Linked DNA regions of Homo sapiens: region 2 is linked to region 1. The links come from fine-mapping of genetic effects on plasma protein levels. Region 1 holds a variant in brackets. A gene starts in the other region. All regions are shown on their reverse strands.

The links. A credible set is the group of variants that fine-mapping cannot tell apart. PIP is the posterior inclusion probability: the model's chance that the variant is causal. The UK Biobank Pharma Proteomics Project read protein levels with antibody pairs (Olink). The fine-mapping took linkage between variants from a reference panel, not from the people measured, so its PIPs are less certain.
Region 2: C6orf58 starts here. The variant in region 1 is the best candidate, but not a certain one, in a credible set for the plasma level of the C6orf58 protein (UK Biobank, PIP 0.55).

What each region holds. Positions count from the first base shown.
Region 1 is chr4:40,415,772-40,426,499 of GRCh38, reverse strand. RBM47 (RNA binding motif protein 47) reads left to right here. Exons shown (of 7, transcript NM_001098634.2): 7 at 357-3,220. The coding sequence ends at 596. It overlaps RBM47-AS1 (RBM47 antisense RNA 1), which reads right to left and starts at 367. Exons shown (of 2, transcript NR_199039.1): 1 at 318-367. RefSeq lists enhancers at 1-1,078, 7,771-7,915 and a cis regulatory region at 7,837-7,850. The variant A/G (reference allele first, on the strand shown) is at 4,304.
Region 2 is chr6:127,570,542-127,581,577 of GRCh38, reverse strand. It overlaps C6orf58 (chromosome 6 open reading frame 58), which reads right to left and starts at 4,404. Exons shown (of 6, transcript NM_001010905.3): 1 at 4,092-4,404; 2 at 2,806-2,892; 3 at 1,129-1,313; 4 at 296-396. The coding sequence starts at 4,392.

The sequences.
Region 1 (10,728 bases):
CGCCATTTTCTCTCAGGGACTCGAGCATCTGAGGATTTTGGTATCCACGGAGGTCCTAGAGCCAATCACCTGTGAGGATACTGAGGGGCAACTGTATTTCACCTTTCCCTCAGCCTTCCAGGCCTCTCACTTTCACAAGGTGGCATCACTGAGTTTGAGGATGCAGCTCCACCTTACCTCTTCAGTGGCTCTTCTCCCACTTGCTTACAATAATTGCTGTTTGCCCGCCCCTCTGCCTTTCTCTCCCTTGCTTTTGTGTCTTTGTATTCCCGTCTTCTGGGAGAGGCTTGTTGAATGAATGGATGATAGGTACATACACGTGTTCAGGAAGGCTCCTTTTTGTCTCTTCTCCTCAGGGCCGCCCAATAACTCCAGTATACACGGTGGCTCCAAACGTTCAGAGAATTCCTACTGCCGGGATCTACGGGGCCAGTTACGTGCCATTTGCTGCTCCAGCTACAGCCACGATCGCCACACTACAGAAGAACGCGGCAGCCGCGGCCGCCATGTATGGAGGATACGCAGGCTACATACCTCAGGCCTTCCCTGCTGCTGCCATTCAGGTCCCCATCCCCGACGTCTACCAGACATACTGAGGCTGGTGACCAGCACGAAGACAGACCACACAAACACCACTGAAGGAACGCTTGACTATTTATGAAGAAGGAACATGTTGGATTCACACATGCAACCTGAAAGTGAAGAATGTTAGCAGATTTATTTCTGAATTATTTTATATACATGAAGTTTTCACTAGTTTTTTAAGACTATTTTCAACTTAGCATGCCTACGTTCATACATTTCCAAAAGACTTGCAATGGTTCGTGCCTTCATTCCATCTTTTAAAAATTTGTATGCTGTACTACATTTGTATAGAGGTTTTTGTTGTTGTTTTTTTAAGGATATATTTTCAGTATGAAGGTTATTTTCTTAACTTCTGCACTCCAGAGATTTCTATTTTGTAGTACCTTCAATAATATATCAACTATATATTAAAAAAGCACACTTGAGGAGCTAGGGAACTATTTTGAAAAATATATACAATATTTAAAGATACAAACAGTAGTGCTTAAAAATACTACATAAAGCATTATTTTAAAGGTTATACTGGAAAGTGCAATTTTAAAATGAGTAAAACCTCTGTATTTCTGCTGGCATTAAGGGTTGATGGTGTTACCATGTATCATCATGGCGGTACTATTTTTTAAAAGAAATTAAACACTGGATCTCTCCTTAAGCCAACATTGAAAAGACTTGCCGCACTTCTGAGTCCAAACACTGGAAAGCTCTCCTTTGCCACCGTTAGCCGGGGCTCATTCTCCATGTGCCTTAGCCTTAAACATGCCCCCACTCCCACATCTCTCACCCTGTCCCCTCCTCCCCAGATTCCCAATCCCACCGCAATGTTTGGCAAGCCTAGGACTGATAAGTAGCTCTGATAGAGGAGCTGGTGGCTTTTATACTTCTTCCTGGGTTTTTGTTGGGGTTTGTTGTTTCGTTGTTTTTTGTTTTTTTTTTTGTTTGGTTGGGGAAGTATTGTCTTCTACGTGTGCTATTTTCAGTAGCAGAGTAAGCACAAGGTTTTAATCGAGTTGCATAAGACACCTTTGCATAGCTATTTAATTGCCCAATGTAAAACTTTAATGCCATTTCTAATGCTTTTATTCATTTTTGAAGTATGAGTTTGTAGGGACAAAGAATGTATGTTATCGTAGACAAGACCCCCAGAGACTCTTTTCAGCAGAAAGTTATGCTTCTAGTTGCCTTACCATGTTTCTTGCAAAACTGTCCATGGTCCTCAAGGGTGTTGGAAACATTATGTTTATTAAATGGGCCTCTCTTCCTTTGCTGTGCACTTGATGGGTGAACTGGATTGGGGTGTGCACATCCAGGAGGAGGAGGAGAGACCTGTAGAAGTTTAAAGATAGTTTGTAAATATCTTCTAATGCTTGTTTTTAGTCCTTTTATGTTGGAGAAGTTCATGGTATGTAGTTTAATGCAAAATGAAACCATTTTATTTCAATGTTATTAAAAAGGTTTGTTTTATTAGGAAGTTAATGTATTGTTGCAGTGTTTTGTGCCTGTTTAAAGGCTTTTGTTTAGCAGAGTGAATGTAAAATACAGTAAAATGTTAAGATTGTCATCTACTTTTTAAAAAAAAATATCAACTTGGAATTGTTTTTTAAAGGCTCAATCAAGGAAGTGAGGTGTGCAATAAGGTAGCAAGTAAAACGCAGTTGCGTTTTTATGTCATGTTAGAGATCCATACAATTTTCCACTCACGGGATTTTTGTTGATGGCTGAATTCTTGTGGATTCATAAGAGGATCATGCCCTTAGCAAGTACTTTTGTTTTGTTTTAAATTAAGAGATTCCCAAATGCCTTTTTCCCCCTCATCTTGAAATGAGATGAGTTTTTATGTGTAAGCAATATTTATTTAACTATTCTATAAAATTATTGAGTGCCTACTGAGGCCTTTAAGCACCGCTAACATTCCTTTCCATCATTCTTTTAAATGACATAAAATAATTGTGCAATGTTCCTGATGATGTACCCCACAAGCTGCATTCAAACTCAAATCTGTGGGAATGAGTGACTCGACAAAATGTAATTCGGATCAGATCCTCATCCCCTGACTGTGTGAAAAAAGTACTCTCCTTCTAGTGAAGGATTGTCACAGAGTTTCACTGGATGAAACTATGACCCAGTATTCTTACTGTATTTTACATATGCCTGTAAATTATTTGCAAAAAAGAAGAAGAAGAGGAAGAAAGAAAAGAAAGAAAAGAAAGAAAGAAAGAAAGAAAGAAAGAAAGAAAGAAAGAAAGAAAGAAAGAAAGAAAGAAAAAGAAAGAAAGAATAAAAAAAAATGATAACATGGCAACCACCAAACTCCCTTAAAAACAAACATTGGTGACATGGCCAATTAAGTATCAGTGAGCCTCCTATCTGGGACTTATCTGTTCCTATTGTTTCAAAACCATTTCATGTACACTACTGAGGTAAGTTTATAACTTGAAATGTGAACTTTTTTTTTTTTTAGTGTTAAGAACAAACTATATAAATGTAAAAAAAAAGTTTTAGAGTTCTGTTTTCAAACATTGCTAGTGGTTTAGTTAACTTTAGCTGCTTTATATTTGAAAAGCTTTTATTTAGATCTTGCTCCATTTACAGTACATTCTTAGGATGTATGTAGTAAATAAAGCTTTCTTTAAAGCAATCGCAAGACCTTATTTTAAATTGTGTTTTCTTTATACTGATTTATTTTTTCTAAAAAAATTAGGAAAACCCTTACAGCATAGAAAGGATTGGCTAATTCGATATTTTCCGTTGGAGAAATCAGCAAGTTAACGGTCATGTGTTTGTCTTGGGACTACCATTGAAGATGGGTTACATCGGCCAGGTGCGGTGGCTCACTCCTCTAATCCCAGCGCTTTGGGAGGCCAAGGCGGACAGATCACCTGAGGTCAGGAGTTCGAGACCATCTGGCCAACATGGTGAAACCTCATCTCTACTAAAAATACAAACAAAATTAGCCAGGCATAGTGGTGGGTGCCTGTAGTCCCAGCTACGTGGGAGGCTGAGGTAGGAGAATTCCTTGAACCCAGGAGGCGGAGGTTACAGTGAGTCGAGATCATGCCTTTGCACTCCAGCCTGGGCAACAACAGCAAAACTCCATCTTAAAAAAAAAAAAGATGGGTTACATAGCTGAATTGTGAATTATGAGTATCCTCAAACTTTGGCTCAAGTGGTAGGAGATTGAACACTCAAATAATACTCAAATCTGGATTGGAATAGGATGTGACAAAGCCTGTCACCACCCTCAGTGCCAAAGTTTATTTATAATCCCAAAGGCTTTACACGCAGAATTTTAAATGGAGAGAGTTGATGTACATTGAGTTTTCTGATGGTCTCATGAAAGTGCTGGGATGACCTTGATGTTGGTCATTGCATTTGAAACCAAAACCTTCTCGTTTCTCCTTTTCACCGTGCATAGCAAGGTTAACAGGACACTTTCCTTTTCTCTAGAGATCATCACTAACTTCAGACAGTATCTATCATCAAAGCCAATCAGATGACAGGAGGGAAGGTGGTGGATTGTCAATAGAATAAAGTTCCACTTGGATTTGCCAGTGATTAAGAATTTTACCTTCTTAGATTTGAACCTGGACTGTGGCCTCCCAACCTGCATTTCTTGGAATTCTAACTTCCTGCTTCCTCTTAAATGGATAAAGGCCTTTTTAGAGGCTGAACAGACTGGGAAACTTCCCAAGATGACAGCTTATTAGGCAGTGTTTTTAGG[A/G]GCAACAAGAGCTGCTGATCTTCTTGTTCTAGCAAATAAGTACAAAAGGTCTTCAAGTTGCAGGATCACATTCAGGTTAGACTGATCTCTTTAGAAAAAGAATTAACAATCAAAATGAGGAGGCCAATAGCGTGTCACATGAGGAGAATGACTATGATCATGTGATTCACTGGGCTGTTAGGCTTCCATAACCTCAGATGGACCTGTCAAGAACTCAGCGAAACAGGCAGGACAGATAAAGATATGTGACTGGTCAAGATCACACAGCTGGTAATAGGACTCAAATCTATACTCAAGGCCAAGCGCAGTGGCTGCCGCCTGTAATCCCAGCATTTTAAGAGGCCAAGGCAGGTGGATCACTTGAGGTCAGGAGTTCAAGACCAACATGGTGAAACCCCATCTCTACCAAAAATATAAAAATTAGCTGGGCATGGTGGTGGCACCTGTAGTCCCAGCTACTCAGGAGGCTGAGGCAGGAGAATCAGTTGAACCCAGGAGGGCAGTGGTTGCAGTGAGCCAATATCATGCCACTGCACTCCAGCCTGGGTGACAGAGTGAGACCTTGTCTTAAAAAAAAAAAAAAAAAAAAAAAAAAGTCTACACTCAAGACTCCTTGTCCCAGGTTCTAAATGCCCCATTTTTTTGATTCCAAAAATGTCTGTCATGACAACATGCAAAGAACTTAATTGAAAGAAGAGTTAGAAAACATAACCTGATTTTTCTTGTATATTCAATTTTTATATGATTTCTTTATTATAAAGCCTTCTGGGCACTGAGGCTTTGTATTTGAGTTTTTTGTTTTGTTTTGTTTGGATTTGATTTTTATTTTATTTTTTTTTTTGAGACGGAGTCTGGCTCTGTAGCCCAGGCTGGAGTGCAGTGGCGCGATCTCAGCTCACTGCAAGCTCCGCCTCCTGGGTTCACACCATTCTCCTGCCTCAGCCTCCGGAGTAGCTGGGACTACAAGTGCCCGTCACCACGTCCGGCTAACTTTTTCTATTTTTAGTAGGGACGGGGTTTCTCCATGTTAGCAAAGATGGTCTCGATCTCCTGACCTCGTGATCTGCCCACCTCAGCCTCCCAAAGTGCTGGGATTACAGGCGTGAGCCACCGCGCCCGGCCTTGGATTTGATTTTTTAAGTCATAGGAAGTGTGACATTTTGGCATGGCTGTTTAGATGAAATAACGTTTTGACACCATGACCCTAAAAACAAAATCCATCTTCAGCTACTGGGTAGGATGATACAGATGTTCTGACCTTATCCTACCTTTTCCTTGACACATTCACCATTTCTGAACCCCCAAGGTCAAAGGGAGGATTAGGTTTAAATATAGAAAGAGACTCAGGGGACATCCACAAAATGTTTTACATCAATTCCAAGGTCTAAGCTATTGGACTGGGTACAGCCTTTTCTCCTGTCTCCTCTTTTCACTTACTAGTACCCAGCATTCCTGTTTCTAACTCTTCATGCCAATAAATTTAGGGGACAAATGTGATTACCCAAATGCTAACCTGTATGAGCAAGTGCCATGGCCTACTAAAATAGGCTGGGTTTGTGGTCAGAATGCCTAGGGGTGAAACCCCAGCTTTGCTACTTGCAAGTCATGAGACTTTGAAGAAGATGCCTTACCTCTCAGTACCAGTTTCTTAACTGGTAAAATAGGGATAATAATCCTGACCTCATAAGGTTATTATAAAAATGAGATGAGTTGGCCAGGCGTGGTGGCTCACGCCTGTAATCCTAGCACTTTGGGAGGCTGAGGCTGGTGGATCATTTGAGGTCAGGAATTCAAAACCAGCTTGGCCATCATGGTGAAACCCCGTCTCTACTAAAAATACAAAAAATTAGCTGGGCATGGTGGTGTGAGCCTGTAATCCCAGCTACTCAGGAGGCTGGGGCAGGAGAATCACTTGAACCCAGGAGGCAGGGGTTGCTGTGAGCTGAGATCGTGCCACCGCACTCCAGCCTGGGTGACAGAAGGAGACTCCATCTCAAAAAAAAAAAAAAAAAATGAGACGAGTTATAGACAGTTATTTCCTTTCCCATCTCCTTTTTAAACTCTAGTGTGACTGCATTCCTCTTTGTTAATTCTATCAAGCCTTTCCATTTTAAATCCTTTTATGATTTTTTTAACTCTTTCATTCACTGAAATTTTTTATTCTTTTATTCACCTGTTTATTCCATAAACATTCATTGCTGGAGTACCAACTATGCAGGATTCACCAGAGAAATAAATCAACAAAATTGACCCTCTGCCTTCTGGAAACTCCCAGGCATGATAAGACTGTTTTATGGAAGGGGCACACACCCAGGCTCGAGCCAGAGATCTACAAGATGAATAGGAGTTAGGCAGATGAGTAGGGGGAAAAGGGATCGGGAAATGCCTGGGCCCGGAGGAAAGAACACGGTATCATCAAGTCCATGAAATCAGTTCAGGGTGGCTGCCTTAAAGGAGGAGAAAGTGTGAAGAAATCCAACCTTTGCACTGTTCAACATTAAATAGGGTTCATGGCCCTGTGTTAACTGTGGGAGGAAGAGATTTGGTCCCTATGACAAGGAAGCTAGGGGAGCCAGTAATCACAGAGAAAGAACCCTCAATCATTCATTCCTTCTTAGGACTTTCAGGAAATGGTGGAGCCCTGCGTTTATCTACACTGCTGAAGCTAGAGCTGCCCCTAGTGAAAAACTCCCTTCCTGCTGCCTTCCTGGCCCCAGGGGGGGATGCCTCCCAACTCTGAGCTTGTCCAGGAGTTTATAGCAGCAATCAAAGCTTTTAGGGCTGCCCACCTGTTTCTTGTGCAGGTCCAGGTTCCAGCCTCTGGGACCTTCACCCTTTCCTCTTGGGTCATACAGCAGCTGCATGTGGGTGTCCCCACTGTTCCTACGTAAACCCCCCATGGGACAGGAATGCAGGCTTCTCAGCAAAGGTGATGGAGGCCTATAGTCCTCCAGATGACTGAGGGTGGATGATATGGTTTGGCTGTGTCCCCACCCAAATCTCGTCTTGAATTGTAGCTCCCATAATCCCTATGTGTCATGGGAGGGACCTGGTGGGAGGTAATTGAATCATGGGGGCAGGTTTTTCCCGTGCTGTTCTCACAATAGTAAGTCTCATGAGATCTGATGGTTTTATAAAAGGCAGTTCCCCTGCACATGCTGCCCTGCCTGCTGCCATGTAAGACATGCCTTTGCTCCTCCTTCACCTTCTGCCATGATTGTGAGGCCTCCCTGGCCATATGGAGCTGTGAGTCCATTGAATCTCTTTCCTTTATAAATTACCCAGTCACGCATATGTCTCTATTAGTAGCATGAGAATGGACTAATACAGTGGAGGAGAATCCTAAGTAAAATCTTCAGAGACACATTGGCTTCCCCAACAGGATCATATTTCCTTGAAACTCCATTCTGCACAGTTACCAGAAACAAAAGCAACACTAATCCCTGCATATGCAAGAAATATGACCTTTCCTAGGCTAATTTTTAGCCACCCTTCTTTCTTGGCTCGTTCTACTTTGTTTGTCAAAAATCTTCATTAATGATTAACCAACCATGAGGTTTAAATAACCTTAGTCATTCTAAGGCAGCTAAGAGATGTCACTGAAGCCCAGTTTTTTCTGAGATGACCTTGCTGGGGGTGTGCTGGGTCAAAACATTTGCACTTAATGGTATTGTGATAACACTGGGCCATGCCAGTTTGGTTTTGCTGGGATTTTTCCGCTCCTTTTTCACGACCTTTATTCCAAACTGACAGCACCATGAGATAGTTTTACTTCCGTCGACCTCACCACCCTCACACCTCCACCCCCATTCAAATTTGGCCATTTGACCCTTTCTCAATCTTATATAGAGTACTATGCAGACTCAGCTTCCCAATAAACCCCTAATGTCCCCTTTCCAAATAAGACACTCCCCTAAGGAGAGAAATTCTGGAAATGCAACTGATTCTAAATGTGCTCTAGCATTTATAGAGGGAATCTCTTGTGCATAAGAGACAACAGCCAAAATAATCTACTTAGAAATTACCCAACGCTTTAGTGCAAACAGCCGTGCCACTGAGTGCTCAGTCAAGCCTGCCTTCGGCGAGCATGTCTTTTTTTGGTTCCTCATTTTCCTTGTGTTTGGGAATAATGTTAAAGTCTTAGATGATGATCATTCAGCAGGAGATAAGAATAATGGCTGACAGTAACTTACCATATATGCCAATGGTCAAGTACTTTACGTGGATATTTTTTAAACTTTTTATTAAAAGAGTAACATAGATACAGTAGTGTACATACCATAGAGAGCTTGATGAATTTTCACAAACTGAGCACATCCATGTAACCAACATCCAGAGGAGTAACATGACCAGCATTCCAGAAGGTTTTGCATGGCCCTTTCCAGTGACCACCTCAACAAGGGAAACAGTCAAATCTACAGCATAGATTAGTTTTGCATGCATCATGTTTTCACACTTGAGCTTGCTACTCTTAATACCCCCATTTTACAGATAAAAAGCAAGGAGGCAGAAGGAGGTTTCATAACTTCTCCCGAGACCACGTCGCTGGTAAGTGAAACAGTGTAGATCTGAACCTGGAATATCTAACTCTAGAGCTGGGGCTGGGGTTGGAGGGATTATAGATCACCCATTTTGTAAGGATGTAGAGTCATTTGTTTGTTCTAGAAGTCACACCGATCTCCTAATAGAGTCACTTTATCTTAAAGGACATTGGAGCAAGTGGAAAGGAAAGTTTAAAAATTACACACATTGCAGAATATAGATGCAAAACTTTCTGGAGTCTGAAGGTCTTATAGGGTCACCTTTCTACATTTTTTTTTCCTGGTGGCCTCCAAGCCTCTTACATTCTAGCATGTCTTTTATCAAATGTTGCTCTCAGAAAGGGAAGAAATAAACAAATTCATTCCCAAGGAGGTGAGTTATGTGGGGCTTTTTGTCTTTTGTTTGTTTGTTTTGAGACAGGGTCTTGCTCTGTCACCCGGGCTGGAGTGCAGTGGCGCAATCCCTGCTCACTGCAGCCTCGATTTCCCAGGCTCAGGTGATCTTTCCACCTCAGCCTCCTGAGTAGCTGGCACTACAGGCATGTGCCACCACATCCAGCTAATTTTTTGTATTTTTTGTAGAGATGGGGTTTCGCCATGTTGCTCAAGATGGTCTCGAATTCCTGTGCTCAAGCGATCCTCCCATCTCATCCTACCAAAGTGCTGGGATTACAGGCATGAGACACTGTGCCTGGCCTCCTGAGTTATGTGGTTTTCATTGAACAAATCCCTTGTCAACGAAGCTAAGGAAGAAAGCCCTAACTTTGGAAGTTAAGGCCATAGCCAGTCAAATAAAGAGAATAACTTCAAGAGTCAGGAGGTTCTCCACCAGCTCCAGGACACTGTACCACAAAAGCAGCCCAATCTAGGGAGGCTAGCCCAAGCCTTCTGAGTTGCCGAGGGGCCAAATAATTAGACCCTCTGGACAGTTCAATGAATAATTTTAACAACTAGTGTCTCAAATAAAAGATATACGATATAAAATGCTGGAAAGACATGCCAGTCAAGGATAATCAGCTAATCCTTGAATAGCATTTCACTGGCCACAGAAGCCTTTCTAAAACTCTATCTCCCTGATCTTCATGACAATCCTGTAAGATAGTTACAGATGACATTCTCCCCTTCCCATTCATTTAACAAATGTTTTGTTTTTCGAGCATTTATGTGCCAGGCTTTGTGATGGGGCCTAAAGACAAAATGGTGAACATGATCTCCATTTTATCAAGGGAGAAATTGAGGCCTAAAAAGGATAAGTTACTTGCTCAAGATACAATGATACTCAAAATTCAATTTTTTTTTTTTTTTTTTGAGACAGTCTTGCTTTGTCTCCCAGGCTGGAGTGCAGTACACTCTCCGCTCACTGCAACATCTGCCTCCCGGGTTCCAGCAATTCTCCTGCCTCAGCCTCACAAGCAGCTGGGACTATAAGCCTGCGCCACCACGGCCGGCTAATTTTTTGCATTTTTAGTAGAGACAGAGTTTCACTGTGTTGGCCAGGCTGGTCTCGGACTCCTGACCTCGTGATCTACCCACCTCAGCCTCCCAAAGTGCTGGGATTACAGGCGCGAGCCACTGCGCCCGGCCTCTTGCTTCTCTTTCATTTGCCTTCCACACTGGGGCCACAGTGATCTTCCTAAAACCAAATCTGAGTGTCACTTATGTCACATATCTTTAGAAGTATCCCACTGCTGACTGTACCAAGTCCAGCTTAAAACACACAAGGCCCTTTATAAACTGGCCTCTGTGCACGTCTTCAGAATTATATCCTGCCAGTTGCATATGGGCAGAACGGATATCCACTATGCACTGGTATGTCCATTTTGGTCACTTACTGCCCATGTTCCTCTGACTGACCAGTGCCTGTCCTGGTTACTGAAAACTTTG
Region 2 (11,036 bases), not on the chromosome of region 1:
ATATTTATATTATATTTTGTTTTCTACATTTAGGAAAATGTATTGTCTGTTGCTTTTTTTTTTGTTTTTTCATGCAAGGCTTTTTTTTCTCAAAATTTTCCCCTTCTTCATAAAACACTTTTTTAAGCCTGATCATGTTAAAATATTTACACATCCTCACTATAATCTCCAATGGTTAGGCTTATTATTTAATATAAAGATTGAAAAACACTCTAGAAGAAGAAGAAAAATATATAAATAATGCCCAAAATTATTTATCATATTAAATAGAGATACTTTAAAGATTCATTCTTACCTGTCTTCAAAACTTTTGATATTATCTGCCAAGGTTGAAGTGTGTGCAGCCCATAAGTACTTCAACAGATCATCAAACTTACTAAAAGGTGACTGCAAATACTAAGGTAAAGAGGTCAAATTTATTAATATTTGAGCAACTATAAAATCCTTCTCCCTGAAATTTAGTCATGTTCAGATATATTTTAGCAATATTGTACATAAAAGAAGAATTTTATTTCTAAGAAAAAGTATGTATATGGCCTTAATGCCTAACACTCTTTAAATAACACAAAAATATTCATTAGTTTTAATAATAGCATATGCATCTATAAGTATTGAACTTCAAGTATTTTCAGAGTTTATATTTTATACCGATCAGGCCTTTATTTTTTCCTGTTAACACTGTTAAAATTACCATAAAATCGTGAGTAACAAAAATATCTTCTTAAAATGTTTCATTAGATCTAAACTAATGCAATAATCTACTAAAGTACTAGTAAATATATCTTTTCTTCATTGATTTTAGTCAAATTTCTTCCAATATCCTAGTGGACATGAAGACTCAATTAATCAGAATAGCTTATTAATCATTCAGCAAAATATCCTGTATGCTCACCATTTTTGTATAATGTATTTGAGGCAAGAAGAATGGATAGATTTATGTTAATGCTGTATTGAGGCAGTAGGTGTTAATGACTCATAACACTCTACAATATACTATTAATATATCATGCATAGCAATTTACATCTGCATACTAAGGAAAATATTATGTAATGCACAAAAAAATCCTAGACGAAATTATATGACAAAATAAACTCTCTTCCTATCTCGTAAGAGTATAAAGAAGGAACCTGGTAAAAGGTGTTCCACTTGTTCATTGTCTCAGGGAAGGATGAACGACAGCTAGAAACATCATAACAAAACTTCCTCTCATTCTTGGGTGGGGGCAAAAGCCTGACTTGGTCTGATGATATCCCCATTACACCAGAATCAACCGCAGCAAGAAAGGGTAATGAAGACAGAAAATAATTCAAATCTGTAAGAACAAAAGATTTACTATTACTACAAGCACTAACAAATTTCAAAGAGGATATTTTTAAGGAAGGCATAAGTCATAAAAAAATTCACAGACCCAGAAACATTATAAAAGCTAACCATTAGGAAAAAAATATTGAACAAAAATCCCCCTAAGGATCAAATATATAACTTTGATTGCATTTCTGTTAATAACCTTATAGTCATAAATATATAACATATTGGCTAAAGTAGTTGACTATATTTTAAAACAAAAAGTAATTTTAATGGATATCATAATATTCATTTTTTCAAAGCATTAAGTAAGAATGGAAGAAAGCTATCAACTTTTCCACAAAATGGTACAAAACCTCTCATTACGGTTTTATTGTGAATTGTACTTGTATTTTTCTCTAAAATATTTTAACATGATTATAGCTTTGGTAAATGAATGTTTTCTATTTTATACACATAAGTTTAATTTGTAATCATGATATCACTAAATTTTTATCTTATTTTATCCTTTAAAGCACAAATTTTGGGTAAGTTTTGACAATAGACCATTAGACTGACAATCAAACATGACTATTTTCACATTTTAAAAAATTTTACCTATATATCACCTATTCCAGCAGACTCAGACATTTTCATTAGTTGGATATTAGGCTTATACTGATTTCCACTAGAAATCAGTGATGTAGAATATTTCATCCTAGACAGGCATTTGTGAATGGAATCCTATGCCACAGTGTAGCAGGCTAATCCTCCAAACTACTAAACCAATCTAAGAATAACAAACTCTGAATTCTAGATCTGTGGCCACTACTATTCGCGAGTCTTTTAAAAGAACTAGGGGTAGTAAGTGGAAAATGCTTAAGGATACATATGATGTGTGTTGCCCTGAAAAAGTGAAATTTAATGTGGTCGTGTTTCTAACTATTGAGAAATACCTCTAAGGATTTGTGGTATAAATTGTTTTCATTACTAAAGCATAAAATTAAATGAAAGAATTAGAAAATACCTTCTGGTTATTTTAGCATTAAGTATATGATTAAAGCCTGAGATTACTGATTGGTATAATGAATTGCAGTAGGTATTAATCTCTGGCATGTTTATGGGTTTCAATATTAACCACATCTGGTCTGAGCAAAATGAAAAAGCATCATTTGTCTTGATGTCTCACTTCTCATCGTTCCTTATTCTGGAGATTCTTTGTCATCAGTTGGACCTCCCACCTAACTACCAGAGCTGGCCCCTCAGAGGCCACTGCTTTTGCAGAACCTTGTTTTCGTCCTTCTGTGAAAAGCTGGATATGTCCTAAGGAATCATTATTGACATTGTGGCTCTTAAATCCCTTAAAGTGACCTAAAGGCCATAAGGTACACGGTGAAATAGATTCCTTTTTAAAATAGGAACAGGATTATTTTAGTTCTGTCTCTGTCCCTAAGATTTTAGGTTTGAATGCTTTCTTTCAGGAAAGGTTAATATCTATTTTGCCACTTAAACGAACATACCAGCCCACCAACTGTCCACAGAGATGCACATATGATCTCCAGATTCATAGCCACAGTTTGTCCTTCGGGTTGGATCAGCTAATCTGCCTGGAGGAGAGAGGATGCACAGTCGTATTTATTATACGCATTTTGAAACTGGCTGTAACTATTGCTTAACCACATAGATTTTGTTTGTAGATACAAAAGCATTTATTTCTGAATGATATGTGTTTGTATTCCCATCATTCTTTTTTTATCTTTTATTTTTTAGTTTCTAATTTCTTTCCTTTTCCTTAACAACACAGTTTTCTACTTTTGAGTTATAGGTCCTAAATATTATTTACTTTTGTAAGGATACTCTCTTCTATTTCCTCCTCTACCTTCTAATCGAAACTATGAAGCAATATGCATACAGATGAAAAGAGATGGTCGAGAGTCAAAACAAACCCCTGCTCTACCACTTACTAGCTTGACTTTATCTAAATAACCTCTAATGCCTTAGTTTTCTCATCTATGACATGGGGATAATAATATTAACTACATTATAAGGTTGTGATGTGAGGTGAGAAAAAGCACCAAAGGTGTTTCACCTGTAATATGCATTATGTAAATATTAGAAAATAATCATTGTTTTTCTTCCAAATGAAATTGCTCTTTTCTTAACCTCTCTCTCACACACAATAATTTCTTTATTGGCTGTGTCATCAGCAGGGAGTGGGCAACAGGCACCACTCTTTCTCATGAGCTTCTATCAACCAGAACAAAAGTATCTTTCAATTCATGTATATTTTATCCCAAAATGTAACTTCTGTCTATACACTGTAAGGTACCTTATTTCCAAGAGGAAGCAAACATTTTACAGAGAAAGATCTTCATGAACAATGTGATGCTTCTTTATAACCTCATATCATAATTAGAACTTCAAGAAATTCAAACTAATTGGACATCACTTTGTATATCCCCTTGACTGTTTTGTTCATCTCATTGCTTAGAAAGGAGTGTGGCACTTAGTAGAACTTCAACAAATATTTGTGAAATGCTCAATAGATGAGATGTGATGTCTTTTCACAGTTGATAACTATGTCTTATGCCTCATTGAAGCTTCTAATAATAACACACAACCCACAAAAGAAGGATTTGTGGATAAGGAGAAGGATAGGTAGAAAAACAATGATTATAAGGGAAAAGAGAACAAGATAAAGAATCAATTTTTAAAAACATAGTAGGGTATATACAGAGTCCAATTTCCCAAATACTTCATAGGTCTATCGGTAGATCATTACAATGAAAACAAGAGTCATTCTTACCTGTCCTATATTGCCAGCCATACTGCAGAGGCAACCCCCATAAAATATTCTGTTCATTATCTGGTGCAAATTTTGCAAAATACCTGGCTGTCTGATTCAATATGATTTTATACATCCCCATTCTCTCAAGGTATACCCAGGGATTAATAATGTACATGCTGTTCTCCACCCTGTAGTCACTGAGCTGACCAGGACTCTCCTTCCACAGAGGGGGCTCTGTCTCTGAGAGATTGGAAGTCCCTGCTAAGGAAGCAGAAAAGGAACCAACTAGTACACAAACCCAGGAAGGAAGAAAAGCCATTGTGCCAGAGCTGGGGATTGCGATCGTAGCAGGGCTTTTATTGGAGAATGGAAGAGGAAGTCATGATATTTGCTAACCTCACAGCATATCAACACTTTGCTTTTTTGTTTTCCTGGATAGGGTGAAAATGTAGAAGAAATTGATGTATTAGCTAACATTTAGGACAATTAAATTTCCCAGACTCTTCAGCGTCAGAATACTGTGTCAGAACCTAAATACAAGGTTAGGCTTGTTTATAATGTATTAGATAAAACTATTTATCAACAAAAACCTTCCAGAAGTTTCCCAGGCTGCATTGTGATTACAAAATACATCACAAATGGCTTTAGAATGCTTCCCTCTAATAAAAATACTTTAACATATTTCATGGAAAATATTAAATAGCTGGAGATGGAAATACTAGGATTTATAATAATCTTCAAATGTGTACTAAAAATATGTGTGATCCAGTTGTAATACAATGTTCTGCTTCAAGAAAGAAGCTTAAAGAATATCTAATTAGCTCAATTCAATAATGAAAGTCAGCCTGCTGGAACAAAACCTGCTAGTTAATTCTTAATATCTATTTTTCATTCTTTATTAGTAAAAGAATCGTAGAATTTTAGCTGGGAATATGGTCTCCCAGAATTAAGGCTAAATTTCCAATTTGCTTTACACAAGCAACCATGTGACTAAGTGTGGACCACAGAGACATAAATAGAAATAGTATCCACAATTTCTGGAACATGTCCTAAAATGAAGGGCACATGTCAATTCCTCTTCCCTTCCTCCATGTTGTGGCTTGGATTATTGATGTGATGATTGAAATTCAATTCTGACCCCTAAACGCAAGGCACTATCTTAGGGATGACAGAATGCAAAGCTGGAGGTGGCTTGAGTCCCAGAGGGCTGTGGAGCCATGAGATGTCCTTGAATTCCTATATCTGAGTTTTACCTGAGCAAGAAACACCCCACTCTCTTGTTTCAACCACTGTTATTGAAGTTTTATTCACACATAGTAAAAATTCTTGCCTTATTAATAGGTAATGCATCTGAAAATCTCAATTATTTACACAATTAGATGCATATGCTTCATAGTAGGTCACTGGTACTGCTTGTTCCTGGCATGGTCCACATTAAACATCCTACAGCATGATTCCACTCTTTTTTCCTGTCATATTATTTACCCAATAGCCATTTGATAATTAATAAATTTTCCAGATATATTAATATAAAAGGGAATGGTAGGAATTGCTACTATAGATCAAGAATGCAATCATTCTGGAAATTTTAAAAGTATATTAAATGTTTATAAGAATATATACGTGAATATGTACTGTAAGATGTGTTACTCTAAAACCAAATGCCAGATTGTTCTCAATGGAGAAATCTTAAGAGCACTCCTTTAAGGTCAGAAATAAAATAAAAATGACCACCAGCATTATAATCATTTAACTTTTCTTTGAGGATACCAAACAATAAAGTTAGTAAAGATAAATAAATTAGAGGTATAAAATTGAGAATGAAGATGTGCTAGTACTTTCCCTTATAGATGATATGACAGTGTTCAGAAAACATAAGAGAATAAACTAGAAGGGTAACTACAAAGAAAAAATTTACTAAAGTGGTTAAGAACTAAATTACTATATATAAATCAATAGCTTTTATATATAAAAGCAATTGGGAAATATAATAGGTGAAAATGGAAGAAAAGTCCTCATTTTATTGTCAACAAAAGGGCCAACATATAAATGTATAATTATGGTAGATCTGTTTGGAAAAATCTCTAAGACTACAAAAAAATTGAACAGTTTTAAAGTCATACAATGTTTCTCAATAGACTCAACATTATCAACATGTTAATTTATAAATTTGTACAATAAATGAGAAATATTAACAGGATTTTTAGATGTGCTTTCTGGAAAGATTTTTAGGACTGAGGCTAAAATTTGCCTAAAAAATAAATTATGAAGAAAATACAAAAACTCTAATAATAATGGATAATAATAGTGAAAGGAAACTTTCCATAACAGATATTAGAAGATTATTATAAGCCCTCAAAAATTAAAGTAACACACCACAGTCATTGATGTAATAGTGTGACCAGTTACAGGTTAAATAAAACAGAAATATTGAACTATATTAGAGAAAGATTTTAAATGAAGACCAAAATACAAATGAGAATTTAAAGAGGAGCTATACTGGAACTAGATCTAGACATTGCTTCTATGTCCACTAGTGGAGTAGTTATTGGAATCCCATATACAGTGGGAAAAAAGTAAGAGCACATCTTGATGGAAAGATATTTGTTAAGGATATAAAAGAAATAATGTCAATAGTAGAATCTGGATCTTCTCATGCAAAAATTATTAATAGAAGAGGAAATAAGTTAGACGCTTACAAATAAACCTCAAATGAACATCAAACATATCACGGCATGCACTGATAGTTACATAACGTGATATTCACTCTTCTCTTATTTCTTTGTAAGAACACCCTTAATCCTTAGCACAACAGAGTCTTCCTGGAATAGAGATTATATTATTTAGTCTCACTGCTAGATGTAGCTACTTGATAAAGCTGTGGCCAAATTGTTAAGTTGCAGCTTTCAAGGAATCTCCTTTATACCTTGTCCTTTATTCTTTGTTATTTCTTCCTCTGCTGGCTGGAATGTAAATGTAACTAGAGACTGATGCTGTCTTAGATTATGAAGGAGCAAGAAAAGGTAGGAGAACAATAAAATAGAAGACTTTTGGTTTCTAGTCTCTACAGCTCTAGATTGTCTACTTCTGATTGCTGTCTCTATGAAAGAAATAAAATTTTAACTTAAGGCAATTTTTTTTTATGGATTTGTACTGCTTGGAGAACCTAATCTGAACAGACATTCTAATTTTGTCTTTCAACATTTCTGTGCCCATTTTTTCTTAACTATAAAGTAGAAATAGTTTTACTGCTCCTAAATCCACTAATTATAACTTCTTTTCAAGGTAAGTTTGTGATATTTGAAAAGATAATTAGTATTAGATACTGGATAGACAATTATATGTTTGAGTCACACACATACAATTACTCAAACTTGAAAAGATCAATGTGAAATAAATATTAGTATCCTAATTTACCAATAATAAAACTAAGACTTATCAGGGTTAAGGACTTACCCAAAATCACATACAGGTCCCAGATGAGAAAGCCTAATTTTGATCCCAGGCCTGCCTGATGTCAAAGCCAGGGCACTTGTAGGCTATGTTGTATTGTGCCACAAAATAATGATGCAAATAATATTACAGGGAAATTTTAACTTAATTAAGAGAAGAAATTGTGTTCAAAAAAATCTGCATTTTATGGCACTTGAAGCTATTTTATTCATTTTCCTAGAATGCTGATTGCAAGTGTATATTTAGATGGCCTTGTTGAGGCAACTGTCAGGAGATTGAAGACAGGGGATCTGTAATGTCAACTTAAGCTTGTTACTAGCAATGTGAATTTGAGGACCCTAAATTTACTCCTCTACAAAAAGAGAATAGTAAAACCATTATTTCTTATTACACAGAGGAATGGGAAAAACCTAAATAAGAAGATGTAGGCAAAAGGAGTAAAAGAGTACAAAACTATGTAAACATTTTTAAAGCCTTTCATTAAAATTAAACAACCACTCTGGAATATGTTTGATCCATTTCTATATTCTTTTTAATATGCACCTTGACTTATCAATGATTTGGTTATATTATTGAATTAGTTCAGTGCAGTCATCATCCTGTTCCTTTTCCCATCCTCAATAACAGTAGAAAAGCTTAGATTCTTTTGTTTGCAAAACACACAGCTCATGGCCACACATGTAGAGTGGTAAGAATCAAAAACTTTTTAAAAAATTGACAAAAAGAAAAGCTATGGTTAACTTTCCTAACATAAAAACAATTCTTGGCAAATATTCCAAAATACTTAACTGGCTGACACTTAAGAAGAAGTATTATCTTACAGTTAATTTGGGGAGTTATATTACCTGTATTTATACAAACATTTTAGTATATTAGAGTAATTATATTTTTCCTGATTAAATATCCTATGGGTATACTGTTTTCTCTGAAAGTGGTTCCTATTTACTCCAGTGTAAAAGGATTTTCACGCTTTTCCTTATGATGAAATATTGAGAATGAAAGCAAAAAAGAAACCACCAAGATGACATCTTCCTTGGAACAAGGATATGAATGTATTTGAAAATCACAGACTATGAAGCATATTTATCAGATAATATAAAATATGCTACACATGAAGACAAAGATATTTACTGAATTCCTTGATGTAATACAGGTTATGCATTACCTTTTTGTCAGGTCTAGAGTCACAACATGGAATATAACTAGATAAGTGATTTTAAAATATTGTACTAGAGATATGATTTAAAATCTTCATTGAAAGATAAATCAGGCCAACGTGTTACTCTGATTATCTGTAATTTTTCCCCTTTGAGAGAGGACACTGTCAGATGTGCAACTTGGTAAAGGAGGGAAAAGAAGGGGAAGTCACCAGATAATACAACTAAGAGCTGATGAGATGAGGGGTTTTACTGTGTGCTGCCCCAAACACCTGGATCCTGATAATTACCCAGAAAAAATTCAAAATATATTGATTCAGACAGTTAAGGAGAGACATGATTGTGGAAAAAGTAAGTACAGATTTGATAGAGATTTATTAAGGCAACTGTGTTTATATCAACGCTGTAGGCTTTACTAGTTCATTCTTCCTGTGTCCTTTCTTCAGATATTCCTAAACTGACCCCATTCAAGATAACCATAATCTTAGCAAGCAATGATACGTCATAATAGAAATTGGAAAATATATATGAATAAAATGAAAAAATATCCTTAAAAGATATTTTGGGGGAAAATGGGGAAATAAGACAATCAAAATACAAACAATTTATATCACAAGAGAAACTGTACTAGAAGACAGAAAAAGAGTTCAGACACAATGAGATCACAGGGGCACAGGGAGGAGAACATCACACACCAGGGCCTGTCGGCGGGTAGAGGGCTAGGGGAGGGATAGCATTAGGAAGAATACCTAATGTAGATGACAGGCCGATGGGTGCAGCAAACCACCATGGCCCATGTATACCTATGTAACAAACCTGCACATTCTGCACAGAATGTATCCCAGAACTTAAAGTATAACAAAAAATAAATAATAAATAAAAATTAATAAAAAAGAAAAAGAGTTCAGACAATAATTACCTATCATCTCAGAAATTATGAACAATAAAAATCACTAAGATGAAGTGTTCCAAAACAGTGATATAAGCTCTTGAAAAACTTGAAACTATCAGAAACGATGATAAATAGACTTGAAGGGCTCTAGAGATGAAGAGAATATAAAATAGTTACAGGAAACAACAAAAGTGGCAATTATAAATGATATAAATAATGTCAGGTACTTAATATTCTATCCTGAAGAAATCACTCAAAATGAAATAGAAAAGGATAAATACTGGAAATAGACATGACAATTATTTAAAAGTTTATACACATAGGGAAAGAAGAGGACCAATACACATAATTTTTCTTTCCTATCTGAAGAAGAGAGTAAAAAAAATGTTGAATAAAAAAATGCAAGGAAGATTTCCTGAAATAAAGAACTTCTTGACTTGGCAGCAAAAAAAAAGAAAAAGAAAAAGAAAAAAAAAGATGCTGAATAGCCTGCACTGAACCATATCCTGGTGACATTACTGAACATAATAGATGAAGACAGAGTAAATGGAATTCAGGCAAAGTAAACAAGTCACATACAAAGACAGAATAAACAGGGTCATTCATATTTTGCCACAGCAATACTCAATACTAAAAGATAGAGTAATTTCTGCAGAGACCATTGAGAAAACAAGTATCTCCTATGAGTTTTATTATAATAGCAATCCCCAAAATTTCTCTGGAAAATTATGTCACATTGAAAGGATTATGAGTAAGAAATCCACTGAACTCTTCAGATAAAGCACTGGGAGGTAGAAGAAAATGAAGCAATACTTACAAAATCCTGAGGAGCTAGAACTAGCTAGCTAGAACTAGAATTGAATATCCAGCCAAACTGCCAGGTGTGGGGCTAAAATAGAAATATTTCTGATATGCAAGATCTCAAAAAATGTTCTTCCTCTTAAACTTTCACTGGAAACTCCTGGAATATAAGTTCTACCAAATAAACAGGCAAACCAAGAAAGGGTAAAACACTGAGTTTGAGAAACAGGAAATGTGAAACAGAAAAGAGGGGAATTCCCATGATATTCATAAAGGGAAGATTGAGATGGAGAGAGCAATCATATTATGAATCATGAGGATGGGGGATTCAAGAAAGAGCACTTTCAAAAATATTAAATAAAACATACATTACCTGATGACTTTGACGATACTGGAAAAAGTTTTAGAGCTCTATAAAAGTTAGTGATTTGTGTTCAGTACAGAGAAAACTAAAAAAAAGAGAAATTAAGCAATTATTAACTTAAGGAAGAAGAAAAAGTTTGCATGAGAAAGAAATAGGATTATGCTGTGTAGGTCCGGTGCCAATAATATTTACATAACCATAATAATTAAACAATAGATATTTATTTCACCACAAATTTTAGTTAACAATTCTAGGAATATAGGATAAAAAGAAATGTGTGAGTGTAGTGTGTAGTG